2 separate regions of the Homo sapiens genome follow, and region 1 is linked to region 2. The links come from fine-mapping of genetic effects on gene expression. Tissue or cell type: whole blood. Region 2 holds a variant in brackets; the other region holds the start of a gene. All regions are shown on one strand. Distances are between the middles of the regions.

Region 1 (2,758 bases), 26 kb before region 2:
TGTTGTAACATTTTGTTTACCCTTTTAGACAAGATAAAGTTTAATACCCTTTCTAACTCTATGCTCAGATAGTCAAGTGAAGAGCTACAACCAAATTTCTTTTTCCTTTCTTCCTTTCTTCTCTCTCTCTCTCTTTCTTTCTTTCCTTCTTTTTTTTTTTGACAGAATCTTGCTCTGTCGCCCAGGCTGGAGTAGAGTGGAACGATCCCGGCTCCCTGCGACCTCCGCCTCCCCTGTTTAAACGATTCTCGTGCCTCAGCCTCCCGAGTAGCTGAGATTACAGGCATGTATAACCATGCCGGGCTAATTTTTGTATTTTTAGTAGAGAAGGGGTTTCACCGTGTTGGTGGCCAGGCTGGTCTCAAACTCCTGACCTCACGTGATCCACCAACCTCAGCCTCCCAAAGTGCTGGGATTGTAGGCGTGAGCCACAGCGCCCTGCCTCAACCAAATTTCAGAAAGTATCATAATATCATTATGCTTCATAGTTTCTCTATGCCCTGAAGTTTACCAATTTTATCTTCTACAGATTCCAGGAAGGCAGCCTGTTAAGACTCACCAAATTTACTTCCTCAGCCTCCAGAACAATAAAATCAAACTCCCTACCTTGATTTTAAGATTCTGCTTCCCCCCACCCCGCCCCACCCCAATCTTCTCCTTGGATATTCGACAGTCTGGAATAATGCATTTTTACAGTTCTGATTGTTTTCAGCAGATGTGTTGGCTGAGGTTGGATGGGGTTTCTTCCCACCTATCTCTCCTCTCTCCTTCCCTCTGCCCACTGCACGTGCAACAACTTTTCTGCCATCAAAACGTGCAAAAAAGAAACAAGAAAGAAAGGAAAGAGAAAGAAAAGAAAAACAGAAAAAAGAAAAGAAAAAGCAGCCGGAAGTCTTCCTTTGTTTTCCAAGGAAATTCAGGTAAAAGGAGGGGTGGGGAAATGATATTTTTGACTTTGCTCACAATCCAGACGTAGGAAAGAAAAAGGATTTCCTTTGGGCTGCTGCCACGACTCTGATGTTTTATGCTGATAAAATATTTCCTTCTTAAAAAAAAGTTCTGGGAAAATCATGCCCCTTCAACTTGGAAGCGAAACCCACCCTAACTTTCGTCTTAAAACGCAGCGAAGTGAAAGGTTTGCTCCTCTTTCACGAGGGTTTTGTTCCTTACAGTTCGGGTCTTGCTACCAGGAGCGAGCTGGGTCCGCAGCGTTCTTCGGTGGCTGGCGCGGGAGGAGGACTACAGGATCCAGAGATCTTTGGAAACTCCAGCAGCTCCAAGCTTGTTGGCTACTACGGTTTCCCTGAGGAGTGACGCTACGAAAACAAACCCTGATTGGTCAGGCCTGAGCTGAGTTCTCCATTTATGGACAGATTGCCCGGCCCGAGCCGAGACTCAGCCAGAGGAGTACGGATTAAGTGGCCGAAGAAAGAGGAGTGAGGCAGGGGAGCGAGGCGGACGCTCCGAGCGCATCGGACTCACCTGGGCCGGCGGCGACCGGCGAGTACGAGTGGACTCTTGCCCTCCGCAGCATGCGCCCCGCCTGCTAAGTCGCCGCCGTCTCGCCCTCACCTAGCACCGCCAATCCCGCCTGGATGGAGTCCCCTCTGGGTTCCCATTGGCTCCTGTGAGTGCTTGGGTGTCGGGAGCCTGTTTTTGGCGAGGGGAACCAACTTTTGAAGTTCGCCCAGAAGACTGCGTTCCAGCCCCAGTTCCCCGGCAGCGGGACCCGGCGAAGACGCGACCGCGGCGCGAGTCACCATGGTGAGTTGGCCGCGCCGCGTCCTAGGACGCCGGACCCGGGGACGGGGCAGGAAACCCCGGCGTGGTGCACCCACCTTGGGCGCGCTGCCGGGGCCAGGGGTGGAGAAGGTGGACGCGGGAGCCGGCACGTCGCGAGCTCTGATTTCCTGCCGCTTTCCGTAAACCCGGGCCGGGGGAGAGCGAGCGAGGGGCCAAGGAAAACTTTATTCCAAGTCGGTTTCTGCGTCGCGAAACTTTCTGTGGCCGGGTTGCTATGGCTGCCAGCTGTCGGAAGCCAGGGTGTGGGCGCATCGGCTGCGAGGGGCACGGCGCGGGAGGGGGTCCCCTCCTCCTGCTGGGACGTGGGGGGCGCAGCCGGCAGGGGAGGTGCTCGGAGACTCGCGCCGCAGCCGCTGGCGGCGTCCCCTGCCCTCCCCGCGGCCGTGCCCGCCCCGCCCCGGGCACCCTCGCGCCGACTCCCTCTCCTCCCCGCCGCCGCTCCGCTGCCCGGCAGCGCCCGCAGCTGTCCCGCCTGGCAGCGGCACGCGGGCGGGGGCGGTCCCTGGCCCGCCTTGGCGAGGGGCGGCGCGGGCCGCACAAAGGCAGGCGGGGGCGCCAGGTAGGGCGAGCACCTGGCGGCCGGCGGGCTGTCAAGAGCCAGGGAGACTCGGGCGCGGGCGGCAACCACGCCGCCCCGGACCTGTGCCGGGCGCCGGCCCCGAGGGTCTCCGCGCCCCGGACGCCAAGTAAACACCTCCTGAAGAGGACCCCACCCCTTCCCAAGCGCGAGGGGATCGGGGCTTTTCGGGGATCCAGGGGACGCTTCGCACGGGAAGACGCCCTCGCGAGTTTCGAGTTTGTTGCTGTTTTCCCTTTGGCACTTTGGGAATGTGTGGAAGGGGCCGCCTCTTTGACTTGTGACTTTTCTGCTATTCCAACTCCCCAGTCCAGCTACACTCCCCTCCCTCCCTGTATAACCTTAGCCACCTCCCTTGGGCTTTGGCGTGGTGTACTT
Region 2 (2,758 bases):
CCACTGTGGCATTGACCCTAGACCAGAGGCCTCCAAAACATGGCGAGGCATCAAAACCACCTGAGGAGGTGATTCAGCAGGTTTGGGATGAGGCTTCAAAATCTGTTTTTCACCAGGGTTCCAGGTGATTCCAGTGGAAAAACTGATAGGAGAGCCGCTGCTTTACAGCTGTGTGGAATTGAAAATGACGTGGGTCTTGGATCATAAGCAGCAGGGTGTTTTTCTTTTCCTAGATTGTCTTCCTTAACCCCAAATTATGTAATTACATACATATTTTCTCTAGAACTTTTTTGTATTTTTAAATTTTAGCTCCTTATGTCACCCGAAATTTACTTTTCTGGTGTGAGGGGTATAATTTTTTCCAAATGCATGGTTAGTGGTCTTAAAAATAATTTATTCACTGGTGCATTCTTTGTCTCCTGTTGTGAAGTGCCACCTTTATCTTATGTTAAATTCATATCTATCATATGTTTCTAGCCTCTTCTGTTTCCTTGATCCTTTTCTTTATTCCTAAACCAGTTGCTAGTACCACATTCTATAATTACTCTAGTTTCGGAATATGTTTTAATTTTTATTTTTGGCAAGACTTTACTAATTAAATTCCTTTTTAAGTGAGTTCTTGGCAATTTATACTCATTTACTCTTCCAGATAAAATTTAGAATCAATGTGTCAAAGTTCCATAAGAAAATCTCTTTGGAACTTTGGTTGGAGTAGCATGAACCCTCTAGAGCAGCAGTCCCCAACCTTTTTGGCACCAGGGACCGGTTTCGTGGAAGACAGCTTTTCTGCAGCCTGGGGTGTGGAGTGGGGATGGTTTTGGGAGAAAACTGTTCCACCTCAGATAATCGGTATTAGATTCTCATTAGAAGCGCGCAGCCTGGATCCTGCGTATATTCGGTTCACAATGGGCTTTGTGCTTCTATGGGAATCTAGTGCTGCTTTGATCTTACAGGAGGCGGAGCTCAGGCGGTAATGCTTGCTCACCAGCCACTCACCTGCTGCTGTGCAGCCCGGTTCCTGACAGGCCACTGCCAGCACGGGTCCATGGCCCCGGGGTTGGGAACCCGTGCTCTAGAGCACTTTGAGAAGGTGAACGTCTTTGTAACTGATGCCTTATACCCACAGACATGGTGTCCTTCCCCATCAGCCCTTCTTTCAGGGGCCTCCATTCATCTTTATGCTTTTCTTTACACAATTCTTTCACTTTTTTTTTTTTTTCTTTTTGGGAGACAAGGTCTCGCTCTGTCACCCAGGCTGGAATGCAGTGGCATGATCAGGGCTCACTGCAACCTCCACCTCCTGGGATCAATCAATCCTCCCATCTCAGCCTCCTGAGTAGCTGGAACTACAGCTGTGTGCCTTCATGCCCAGCTAATTTTATTTGTTTATTTTGTAGAGATAAGGTTTTGCC[A/G]TGTTACCCAGGCTGGTCTTGAACTCCTGGGCTCTAGTGATCCTCCAAAAGTGCTGGGATTACAGTCGTGAGACACCATGCCCAGCCATCTTCCCCATTTCTTAAGTTTATTACTGGCATTTTATTACCCTTGTTACTGATTTGAATGGGATATTTCCTAAAACATTGTCTTTTGAAAATATTAATAATTTTATCCATAGTTCTTATAATTTAATGGATATCATGTCATAACCCACAGAATTACAAGAATCTCCCTCACCTGAATATAGAGGGATTGTAGCATTTTGAGGCATTCCATTTTTTACTCTTGCTTCAAAAACATGAGACAAAACAGGTTCTCCTCAAGTGTCCCAGTGCACTCTTCTTCATTAATAGAGTGGCCTGGGCTATGGGGCCGTCATTCGTAGGCTCTTTGGCAGGGTTGCAGAAGGAGCTGAGTCTGGGCTGAATGTGATCCATGGTGGGACACAGCCTGCAGTTCGTGCTTCTGAATAGGTCCCTGGTCGGGGGCTGGATGTTCAGTGATGCACCTCGTCATCCTGAGGTCAAGAAAGCACAAGTGGAAGAAGGGGAAAGATGTGTTAATTCTGCCTAGCTGAATGAGGGATTCAGAAGTGGGAGCCAGACCTTTGCTTACAATCTCAGAAGGAAAAAATGTTGATTCCAGGAATCAAGTAATTCTAAGAACCAATTATATAAAAAGTGTTTTGCAAACTATAAAGTGATATTCACTCACATGCATTCGGAAGTACTACCTCCACGTGTTTTAGCTGCATTTGAAAGTCTTTTAGAAAGAAAGCAATGCAACTGCTGGATAAAACCTCATCCCTCTACCCCAGAATTGTTGTCACAGCTTTAAGGAAGTTTTATGTGAAAGCAGAGGAAAGTAACAGTAACTCTTTAATCCAGACATGTGTCTAAACCATGGATAACTCACAGAAGGCCTTAGAGACTCTGAGAATTGGTAAATATTCTATACATCCTTAGCATCCACAGGCTAAATACCCCTCCATTCCCTGAGTCAGGGCATGCCAGCTGTTAACAATGTTCTATTCCTGGTACCTCTCTCTTTGCATTTCCCTGTCTTTCCTCAATCATCTTGTATCACAGGAAGTATAAAAGTAGTTAGGCAGTTCTATTTTTTGACAGCAGATGAAAAGCCAAAGTTAAAGGTCAATGCTTAACCCACTGGCTTCTAATAAGCTGGTAAAGCTGGGCAATATAGTAAGACCCCTATTTCTAAAAACATTTTTTTAATTAGCTGAGTGTGGTGGCACATGTGCCTGTAGTCCCAGCTAATCAGGAGGCAGAGGCAGGAGAATCCCTTGAGCACAGGATTTTGAGGC

Evidence for each region. PIP is the estimated chance that this variant, and not a neighbour inherited with it, causes the effect.
Region 1: MYO1E starts here. The variant in region 2 is fine-mapped to the expression of MYO1E in whole blood (INTERVAL, PIP above 0.99).

The regions. Positions count from the first base shown.
Region 1 is chr15:59,371,504-59,374,261 of GRCh38, reverse strand. It overlaps MYO1E (myosin IE), which reads left to right and starts at 1,391. Exons shown (of 28, transcript NM_004998.4): 1 at 1,391-1,764. The coding sequence starts at 1,762. RefSeq lists enhancers at 1,103-1,607, 1,608-2,111 and a silencer at 2,127-2,446.
Region 2 is chr15:59,345,386-59,348,143 of GRCh38, reverse strand. The region is part of intron 1 of MYO1E (myosin IE); the gene reads left to right. Among named protein-coding and RNA genes, the nearest start is that of MYO1E, 26 kb to the left of the region's middle. The variant A/G (reference allele first, on the strand shown) is at 1,413.